Regions from separate parts of the Homo sapiens genome. Here all the other regions are linked to region 1. Evidence: fine-mapped expression QTL. A gene starts in region 1. Each other region holds a variant in brackets. All regions are shown on one strand. Distances are between the middles of the regions.

Region 1 (2,685 bases):
TTTGTTTTTGTTGTTGTTGTTTTTGTTGTTTTGTTTGAGACAGAGTCTCCCTCTGTCGCCAGGCTGGAGTGCAGTGGCGCCATCTCGGCTCGCTGCAACCTCCGCCTACCGGGTTCAAGCGATTCTCCTGCCTCAGCCTCCAGGCATGCGCCACCACGCCCAGCTAATTTTTGTATATTTAGTAAAGAAGGGGTTTCACCATGCGGGCCATGGTTGGCCAGACTGGTCTCGGTCTCTTGACCTTGTGATCTGCCCTCCTCGGCCTCCCAAAGTGCTGGGATTACAGGCGTGAGCCACCACACCCGGCCGAAAGCAGCTCTTTATCAGTGTAATCCATCCAAATTTCCCTCTTTCATTCTTTCGATGCCCCCAGAGGGAGTGGGAGTGCTACACAGGAGAGTCTGCGGACCAGGGCTGGGCTGCTGCCTGAAGGCTAAGATTCTGTGTGGTGGTAGAACAAGAAGTGTTGGGGGGCATGTAAATACAGGGACTGCCAGAGTGAAGGTTGCAGAACCGGGCTTGGAAGGATGATGAAGAAACTGGGCGACACTAAAGCGCCAGTTCAACAAGTATTGCGTATCTACGACGTGGTAGGCATTGTTTTGACACTAGAGATTCAGCAGTAATTCAACCAAAGTACCTGCTCTCATTGAGCTGAATTTCCGCGCGGGCACCTAGGTAACGCATATAAACACTCGTATCACATACATACACATGTACATGTCAGGTAGAAATGCTATTTATAAAACTGAAGCAGAGCATGGGAAGAGCGAATGAAGGTGGCTATTTGAGAAGACCCCCAAAAAAGCGAGACTGCAAAGCACTCGCGGTTGTTCCTTTTCTGATCTTCTAGCTACAGGCAGCGAGGTGCGCTCCCAGGAAGGCCCGCCCTCTTCCTCCTGATAGGGCGCAAGGTGCCAGGGACGCTCCCCCGCTCTTCCCCGCCCAGAGGCGGCCTTGTGGGGGCGGAGCTTTGTGCCCAGCAACATGAGCGCGGCGCGCAAAGAGCCGCGCGCGGAAGGGTCCCGGCATTCTCCTCGTTCTCACTAGGCGTGGAGAATTACTCCAGGCGGATCGTGGCATGATGGGAACTGTAGTTGACGACCGCCGCCCCGCGCCTGAGGGGCAGTAAAAGTCGCCAGGTCCGGCTCCATTTCTGGCACAAAACTTGCAGCACCGAGGGGTTGTGGAGAGCCCTTGCAGGGGAAGAGGGCAGGGTCATCCCGAGAACCAACGGGCACGTATAGCCCGGCGAACGCCCAAGCCGGTCACCGCCCCCGGTCACGTGTCGCCAGCCTCCGCGGCCGCGCGCCGCTCTCAGCACCGTTCCCGCCCCACCCGGCCCGGCAGTCGGCCCGCGCCTCCCCCGGCGCTACTGCCACCTCGCGCTCGGAGGCGTCACAGAACGTGCTCTTCTCTCCCCTCCCCCCTCCCGCTCTCCCCCTCCTCCCCCTCCCGCTCCAAGATTCGCCGCCGCCGCCGCCGCAGCCGCAGGAGTAGCCGCCGCCGGAGCCGCGCGCAGCCATGGCCGAGAACCCCAGCTTGGAGAACCACCGCATCAAGAGCTTCAAGAACAAGGGCCGCGATGTGGAAGTGAGTGTGCTTCCGCGGTCTGGGCCCGCCTGGCCGCGCCGGCCCGGCGACGCGGGGAGGGGCGGGGGGCCGGCGCCGGGCTGGTTCTCGTCGGCTTGTGGTCGGCCGGAGTTGGCCGCCGCCTCCCGTCACCGCGGCCCCGGGCTGGGCGGAGCGGGCGGCGAGACGCCGGCCGGGCTGCAGTCACCCCCCGGAGCTGCCGGCGCGGCGACCGGGAAATGCCGGCGTTTTCGGCCCCGTCACGCGGGCGCGGCCTGGTGTCGGCGAGGAGGGGATGTGGAGCTGAGGCGGGGTCCGCGGGCCAGGGCCGCCCGGATGAACGGGGATGCTGCCGCCCGGGCCCTCCGACCGCACAGCCGAGGGGGCGGCCGCTGCTTGCGCCCGCCACCGGTGCAACCTTCCGTCCGGTGCAGCCCCCTCTGCGCCTCCCGCGCGGCTCACATGGAGCCTCGGCTCTGCCGGTCCGGGCTCCTACCTTCTGCGAGCCGGGCCCAGGCGGGCGGTGGCGGCCCGCAGAGGGGGGTGGGGACCAGCCGGGTAACTGACTTGTTTGAGGGTGATCGATGGGGGAGGGTAGGATGCGCCAGGACCATTTTCTTATATTCCAGTGCTCGTCTTTGGACTAGTCGTGCCGAGCTGTTGCAGCTCATACTCCTGCAACTGCTGGCATTTGGAGCGAGCTGAAGGTGGACAATAGTTTGCCATCTATTGTGTTCAGGCTTCGGAAAAGAGGTTGCTCCGACCTCCGCTCATAGGACTTGTTTTCTTAGCCTTTCTTGGAGTGGGGTGTGCATAGGGTGATAATTTCTTTGACACGTTTTACTAAAATAAATTGGATACACAGGTTCATAATTCTCTTACATACCTCTTGCTCCAAGCTAGTAGAATTTCCAAGTGGTTGCAAAACTAAACATTCATCGCGGTCACTCAGTTAGTTGCTACTCAGCATGTTGCCATTGTCTCATTAAGGTGACATTAGCAGGTACTATTTGCAAACTCGGCTTATTGAGGCAGCGCTAGAGGTCTCTCTGCAGCTACTGAAAACAGTAAGTATAATGCACAAACTTCACTGGGACCGTGACCTTTGGATTT
Region 2 (2,685 bases), 65 kb after region 1:
CCACATGACATCTTGAAAGACTTTCTTTGGCTTTATAATTTTATTTTTTACATTTATCCATTTTCTCATTTAAGTCCCCCATTCCCAGTATTTTGCCAAACCACCTAACCAGCTTAATAACTTTCTCCTTCCAGTCTGAGGCAACATATACTGTCTTACTGTTTTTGATCTTACTGTTTTTTTTACTTCTTCCCTGCCTCTGATATACCATCTTATTTCCTGCCTTCTGCTAGAATTCATCATATACAGGGGAAATTTTAAAAGTTTGTGGAAAAGTGGAATCAAAAGACAATAAAATATATGAAAGATAATAAATATATAAACTTGATTTCTCAACATAAGCTCCATCAAGGTCAAGACACTTTTGTAAGTGATACTACCAGCCATTGTCTATCCCTAAAGAACTGAGGGTCCTGGGAATTTAACCATGTCAGCGCAGTCTTTTTCATGATATTAACTGAAGAAAACTAGATGCCCTTTACAGGTTGTTTTTTTAAGATTAGGAAACAAAAAGAAGTCACAAGATGGCCAAATCAGAACTGTAAGGTGGATACCTAATGATTTCCTATTGATTCTCTTGCAAAATTGCTCTTGTTTGATGAGCAGAATGAACAGAAACATTGTGGTGGAGAAAGACTCTCTGGTAAAGCTCTCTCAGGCTTTTTTCTGCTAAAGCTTTGGCTGACTTTCTCAAAACACTCTCATAATAAGCAGGTGTTATCATTCTTTGGCCCTCTAGAAGGTCAACAAGAATAATACCTTGAGCATCCCCAAAAACTTTTTAGTCATTACCTTTCCTCCTGACCAGTCCACTTTTGCTTCGATTGTACTTTGTCTTTAGGATCATACTGGGAAAGCCATGTTTCATCTCCTTTTACAATTCCTTGAAGAAATACTTCAGGATCTTGATCCCTCTGGTTTAAAATTTTCATTGGAAGCTCTGCTGTTGTCTACGGCTTATCTGGGC[A/T]CAATGGTTTTGACACCTATCAAGGGGAAAGTTTGCTCAACTTTAATTTTTCAGTCATAATTTTGTAAGCTGAACCAATCAAGATGTCTGGTATTGGTTATTGTTTCTGCTGTTAATCAGCAATCATCTTCTGTTAGGGCACGACCAAGATTAATCTTTTCCTCAGATATTGTTGTTGATTGTTTGCCGCTGTGGATTTCATCTTCAACATCGACTTGTCCTTTTTTTTTTTTTTTTTGAGACAGAGTCTCGCTCTGTCGCCCAGGCTGGAGTGCAGTGGCACGATATCAGCTCACTGCAAGCTCCGCCTCCTGGGTTCACACCATTCTCCTGCCTCAGCCTCCCGAGTAGCTGGGTCTACAGGTGCCTGCCACCACGCCCGGCTGACTTTTTGTATTTTTAATAGAGATGGGGTTTCACCGTGTTAGCCAGGATGGTCTCGATCTCCTTACCTCGTGATCCGCCTGCCTCAGCCTCCTAAAGTGCTGGGATTACAGGCGTGAGCCACCATGCCCGGCCGACTTGTCCCTTCTTAAAAGGAGTTAACCATTTGTAAACCGCTGATTTCTTTGGGGGCATTTTCCCCGTAAAGTTTTAAGTACATCAGTGAGTTCACCATTATTTCACCCAAGCTTCACCATAAATTTGATGTTTGTTTTTGCTTTAATTTTAGCAGGATTCATGTTGCTCTTCTAGGGGCTCTTTTCAGATTGATGACTTACCCCTTACCCCTCTTAGTGCCTCAAACTAGATCATGTTCAGACGTGTATAGAAAGTTAGTATGAGTTTATTTTGGTGCAAAAAAATTGAAATCCATGGAGTTTTTTTCATAATACACATTTTTAATGAGTTTTTTAAAGTCCCCTCATAGTTCTTCTCTGCTACTTCATTTTCTCATATGTTCCATCTTTTTAACCTGTATATCACTATTTGCTATATCTCTGACATCTATTCTCCTTAAAACCTTTTGTTCTTGGATCTCTTCAACCTTTTTTCTCTTTTTTCTTTCTTTTTTTTTTTTTTTTGAGATGGAATCTCTCTCTGTCGCCCAGGCTGGAGTGCAGTGGTGCAATCTCAGCTCACCACAACCTCCGCCTCCTGGGTTCAAGGGATTCTCCTGCCTCAGCCTCCCGAGCAGCTGGGATTATAGGCACGCACCATCATGTCCAGCTAATTTTTGTATTTTTAGTAGAGAGGGGGTTTTGCCATGTTGGCCAGGCTGGTTTCAAACTCCCGACCTCAGGTGATCCATCTGCCTTGGCCTCCCAAAGTGCTGGGGTTACAGGTGTGAACCACCTTGCCCGGACTTCTTTAACCTTTTGATACTAACAACCTTGCTTGCTCTCTTCCCTGTTTATAGGCTTTTCTTCAAACTCCCTAACCTTTGTCTAATCTTAATTTTTGCTGACTAAATCCCCCCAATCCTTGGTATTCCACTTAAGGGAATTTGTACTCTTTCAGCTATCCTAACTTAATATCTATCATTTCCTTTTAACAGGTCTTTCCTTTATGTCTTTTTTGTGACAGGGTTTCACTCTGTCACCCAGGCTGGAGTGCAGTGACACAATCACAGCTCATTGAATCCTCAAACTCCTAGGCTCAAGCAATCCCCCCATCCCACCCCCGCCCAGCATCCCAAGTAGCTGGGACTACAGGTGTGTACCACCACATCTGGCTGATTTTTTTATTTTTTGTAAAAATGGGGTCTCACCGTGTTG
Region 3 (2,685 bases), 66 kb before region 1:
TAGATTTATAATTCTAGGTTTACATTTAGATCTATGATCCATTTTAGATTTTTTTTTTTTTTTTTTTTTTTTGAGATGGTGTCTCCCTCTGTAGCCCAGGCTGGAGTGCAGTGGTGCAATCTTGGCTCACTGCAACCTCCGCCTCCCGGGTCCCAGTTCAAGCAATTATCCTGCCTCAGCCTCCCAAGTGGCTGGGATTACATGCACATGCCACCATCCCCAGCTAATTTTTGTATTTTTAGAGAGACAGGGTTTCACCATGTTGGCCAGGCTGGTCTTAAACTCCTGACCTTGTGATCTGCCCACCTGTGCCTCCCAAAGTGCTCGGATTAGAGGCATGGGCCACCGCGCCCCGACATTTTAGATTAATTTTTTCGTAGGGTCTGAGGTCAAACTCCTGGCTTCAAGCAATCAATCCTCTTGCTTCAGCCTCCTGACTCACTGGGATGGCATGGGCCACTGTGCCTGGCTCCCAGCCTCCTCTTTAATCAAGGAGCTTTGGCTCTGTGAATTGACTTAGATCTCAACACAAGAGGCCATGACTGTCCACTGCAGTGACTCATCAGGTTTTTAGCTACCAGACCTAGAATTTTTCCCTCTGTTACAGATCAAGCAATACAATGGTAGATTGCCCATCTATTTCATTCCTAAGAACACCATAACTTAACCACCATCAAATATGTCTGCAGGCCAAAGCATTCTGATTGCCCTTTACAGTGGATGCATTTACTTTGTCCTTGGAGATTCAGTGCCACCCCTACCTATGCCACTCTGAGATCCCATCATCCCATCATTGAAATTGGGGAGACCATGTCAATGGCATATTTTCCACCTACCCTATAGAAGAGAGCAACCACAGAGCTCTCCTTTGAAAGAGGTTGCAGGTGCTCCATTTATTAATGCATTTCTCAATGCTTTAGTGAGGGAGATGTCTTCTGGGTTTTCTCATGGGACATTGTTTGGAGGTAGGACTGAACAATGACATGATGAGAACAGTAAGGTAATGTTTTATACCATATTCTGGGCTCTGTTCATGATTACTTTTTTCTGATAATAAGGACTGTTTCAATATTTTAGACATTTTAGAACATGACAGAAGATTACAGAAAGATATTAGGGTATTTTATGATTTGAAGTCTCACAAGGGACAGAAACCAGGGAAGTCTCCAGGTTCCTCAGCTGCATTTATTTGTGTATCTTCTTTTGAGGATTCTGCCATTATTATGACAGATTTTCCGTTCTTAGTTTTGGGTCTCTCCCTTCCAATTCTGGCAGGAGAAAAGCCCAATTTCTTTTTCTCTTATTTTATCAACATTCTTGGAGCCTTTACTGATAAAGGCAAAATTCAGTACAAAGCATACTTTTAACTGGCCTATTTAACAAGTATTTTAAAGAGCAAAAATCTTTCCTATCAACTTCCACAAAGGTGTCCAAAGTCATCCTTTTAAATTGGAAAGAGTTCTTAGGGAATTACGCAATGGTATGTACAAACCTGAACAGGCTGTACTCATGAGGACAAATATGTGATTTATCTAAGCATAGTAAATACTTCAGAGTTTAGTTTTCAGGGTTGGA[A/G]TGTCTACTGTAAACAGTAGCAATGACTATCTCTATAGCAAAATTTCCAAGCATAAGAAGAAATCAAGTTTTTCAAGAGAACATTTGCTCAGTAATACCTTTGCTCTTTTATTTATAGGGTAAAAGAGGGAAGAAATATGAGAAACATGCTTATAATACTTTTTTCTTCCCATATCCTTTTCCTTACCATAAAAAAAAGTTCTGTGGACTGGAATTAAAGATCAATGATGTATCACTGAAGCCATGAAGTCCTGCAAGTTTACATCATGATGATTCAGTGCTCCTGGATTAGCAAACCTTCCTCTCTGTGCATAAGCATCCCTCAACAATCCCAGGCCCCCGTGTCAGTACTGCTTCTGAACAACTCGCTAGTAAGCCCTTGAAAGAATGCAAACCTCTTTAATGTAGTCAAATGAAACAGATTTGTGCTCTGTCAACTCAGTCTTGACTTTTGCCTCCAGATTGTGGATTACTTGAGATGCCTGAAATATATTGTTTTTAAAACTGAAAGGTAGCTCCATCATTTCAAAAGCAGATAGTAGAGATGTTTACCAAGAAAAACATAGCCAAGGCCGGGCGCGGTGGCTCACGCCTGTAATCCCAGCACTTTGGGGGGCCGAGGTGGGCAGATCACGAGGTCAGGAGATCGAGACCATCCTGGATAACACGGTGAAATCCCATTTCTACTAAAAATACAAAAAACTAGCCGGGCGTGTTGGCGGACGCCTGTAGTCCCAGCTACTCGGGAGGCTGAGGCAGGAGAATGGCGTGAACCCAGGAGGCGGAGCTTGCAGTGAGCCAAGATCGCGCCACTGCACTCCAGCCTGGGTGACAGAGCGAAACTCCGTCTCAAAAAAAAAAAAAAAAAAAAGAAGAAGAAAAACATAGCCAAAACATTACATTCCAGCCCATGGGCAGTGAAGATTAGATTTTCCTGTTATCTTCCACCTGTTTTTGTTGTTGCTGTGGCTTTTTGGCTTGTTTGTTTTCATCCCTGCTGTAATCCCTGATTAACTCTTATTTTTTCAGGTTGTTGTTTCATGTATTTTGGCCACCACTTCCTGCCAAAACTATCTAATATCTGTACATCTCTAGAGGGTTCTAGCAACT
Region 4 (2,685 bases), 32 kb after region 1:
GGAGGGGCTCCTCACTTCACAGACGGGGCGGCTGCTGGGCGGAGGGGCTCCTCACTTCTCAGATGGGGCGGCTGCCGGGTGGAGGGGCTCCTCACTTCTCAGACGGGGTGGCTGGGCAGAGACGCTCCTCACCTCACAGACGGAGTCGTGGCTGGGCAGAGGCGCTCCTCACATCCCAGACGGGGCGTCTGGGCAGAGGCGCTCCCCACATCTCAGACGATGGGCGGCCGGGCAGAGATGCTCCTCGCTTCCTAGACGGGATGGCAGCCGGGAAGAGGCGCTCCTCACTTCCCAGACTGGGCAGCCGGGCAGAGGGGCTCCTCACATCCCAGACGATGGGCGGCCAGGCAGAGACGCTCCTCACTTCCCAGACGGGGTGGCGGCTGGGCAGAGGCTGCAATCTCGGCACTTTGGGAGGCCAAGGCAGGCGGCTGGGAGGTGGAGGTTGTAGCTAGCCGAGATCATGCCACTGCACTCCAGCCTGGGCAACATTGAGCACTGAGTGAACGAGACTCCGTCTGCAATCCTGGCACCTCGGGAGGCCGAGGCTGGCAGATCACTCGCGGTTAGGAGCTGGAGACCAGCCCGGCCAACACAGCGAAACCCCGTCTCCACCAAAAAAATACGAAAACCAGTCAGGCGTGGCGGTGTGCGCCTGCAATCGCAGGCACTCGGCAGGCTGAGGCGGGAGAATCAGGCAGGGAGGTTGCAGTGAGCCGAGATGGCAGCAGTACAGTCCAGCTTCGGCTCGCCATTAGAGGGAGACCGTGGGGAGAGGGAGAGGGAGACTGTGGGGAGAGGGAGAGGGAGACCGTGGGGAGAGGGAGAGGGAGAGGGACCCTCTTCTCTACTACTTATATGACATCAGCACTGCATTAAAAAATATTTTTTTCTGTTAATAGCCAGGATCCAGTTGTTGTAGAACAGGTGACCTCCCAAAGTATGACGTCTTTCAGAAGTAACATATACTGTTTTTGTCCTACTTTTTTGTTATTAAGAATATGTATGTTATTTAAAATATAGGAATTCTTTTTAAAAACACGATACCATTATCACACTTGCCAACGTGATCATGGGGGGAAAGGGCAGCAGTGCTGGTGCAAGTCCTGGAATCCGAAGACCATAGAATCTGGAGTTCTGACAGCAAGAATTACTCTTGCCTCCTCTTTTTGTTCCATCTGGGCCCCAGCTTATTGAATGCTGCCCACCCACATTGAGAGTGAAACTTCCCCTATCAGTCTACTAACTCAAATGCCAGTCTCTTCAGGAAATACCCTCACAGGCACTGGGACAGCCCAGTCATTCTAATCAAATGCCTGACCGCCCGGGTTTTCCTTTCAGCAGAAGAGGGACGAGCTCAGTGCTGTCTGAACCACTGAGGATAATTAATGCTTTCACCAGCTATCTGGGTATCCCTTAATCCAGTCAGGTTGACACCTGGAATCAACTATTACAAGGTCCACACATTGCGATTGATTGATTGATGTGAACTCAAAGTCTCCTTTTTAATTTATGGTCTCTTAATCTCACCATCTTTGTCTTTTTTATGCACTTTATTGTTGGAGAAACTGGGTTCAT[G/A]GAGGTTCTCATAATCTGAATTTTGCTTTTTTTTTTTTTTTTTTGAGATGGGATCTCACTCTGTCACCCAGGCTGGAGTGCAGTGGTGTGATCTTGGCTCACTGCAACCTCTGCCTCCTGGGCTCAAGCAGTCCTCCCACCTCAGTCTCCTGGGTAGTTGGAATCACAGGCATGTACCACCATTCCTGGCTGAGTTGTTTTTTGTATTTTTGGTAGAGATGGGATTTCATCATGTTGCCCAGGCTGGTCTTGAACTCCTGAGCTCAAGCAGTCTTCTTGGATTGCTGGGTTTACAGGCATGAGCCACCGTGCCCGGCTGGATTTTACATCTTATCATGTCACTTGACATGTGTATTGGCCCTCTGTATTTCCTGTAAATTCAAAGTTGAAGCTGGAGGCTTTATCAGATTCAGATGATTTGGGGGAATTGGGAACATGACTGCATCATATGTGATGGTTTTCTCTTCCATCAGAAAGGCACGTAGTGTCTGGCTGTCTCTTTCTGTTATGTTGACATCACCACTGAGGAACATTGTCTAAGTCTGTTATTTACTAGGATTTGTAAAATGGTGATAATCTATCACTCCTTCTTTAAGCTAGACCAGGGATCCCCAACCCTGGACCACTACCAGTCCGTGGCCCATTAGGAACTGGGCTGCACAGTAGGAGGTAGGCAGCAGGCAAGCAAGTGAAGCTTCATCTGTATTTACAGCTGCTCCTCATTGCTTGTATTACCACCCGAGCTCCACTTCCTGTCAGATCAGCAGCTGCATTTGATTCTCAAAGGAGCACAAACCCTGCTGTGAACTGTGCATGCGAGTGATCTAGGTGCATGTTCCTTATGAGAATCTAATGCCTGATGATCTGTCACCATCTCCCATCATCCCCAGATGGGACCTCTAGTTGCAGGAAAACAAGCTCAGGCCTCCCATTGATTCTACATTATGGTGAGTTGTGTAATTATTTCATATTACAATATAATAATAATGGAAATAAAGTGCACAATAAATGTCATGCACTTGAATCATCCTGAAACCACTCCTTCTACTTCCTAGTCCATGGAAAAATTGTCTTCTGTGAAACTAGTCCCTGGTGCCAAAAAGTTTG

Direction of the effects. Alleles are on the strand shown, and positions count from the first base shown. SD is a standard deviation of normalised expression in the study named. Not every link is listed here.
For the expression in fibroblasts of the gene that starts at base 1,349 in region 1, A is the high allele of the variant in region 3 and G is the other (small effect, 0.25 SD a copy in GTEx).

The links. PIP is the estimated chance that this variant, and not a neighbour inherited with it, causes the effect.
Region 2: its variant is fine-mapped to the expression of KPNA3 in whole blood (TOPMed, PIP above 0.99). The same link has a PIP of 0.9 or more in blood mononuclear cells.
Region 3: its variant is fine-mapped to the expression of KPNA3 in fibroblasts (GTEx, PIP above 0.99).
Region 4: its variant is fine-mapped to the expression of KPNA3 in whole blood (INTERVAL, PIP 0.91).

What each region holds. Positions count from the first base shown.
Region 1 is chr13:49,791,346-49,794,030 of GRCh38, reverse strand. KPNA3 (karyopherin subunit alpha 3) reads left to right here and starts at 1,349. Exons shown (of 17, transcript NM_002267.4): 1 at 1,349-1,593. The coding sequence starts at 1,525. RefSeq lists enhancers at 1,054-1,183, 987-1,648, 1,649-2,310, 2,315-2,685 and silencers at 1,254-1,503, 1,624-2,193.
Region 2 is chr13:49,726,755-49,729,439 of GRCh38, reverse strand. All of the region lies in intron 6 of KPNA3 (karyopherin subunit alpha 3), which reads left to right. Among named protein-coding and RNA genes, the nearest start is that of EBPL, 37 kb to the right of the region's middle. The variant A/T (reference allele first, on the strand shown) is at 968.
Region 3 is chr13:49,857,555-49,860,239 of GRCh38, reverse strand. No RefSeq gene overlaps it. Among named protein-coding and RNA genes, the nearest start is that of KPNA3, 66 kb to the right of the region's middle. The variant A/G (reference allele first, on the strand shown) is at 1,576.
Region 4 is chr13:49,759,352-49,762,036 of GRCh38, reverse strand. All of the region lies in intron 1 of KPNA3 (karyopherin subunit alpha 3), which reads left to right. Among named protein-coding and RNA genes, the nearest start is that of KPNA3, 32 kb to the left of the region's middle. RefSeq lists enhancers at 1-550, 551-1,271 and a silencer at 2,360-2,429. The variant G/A (reference allele first, on the strand shown) is at 1,579.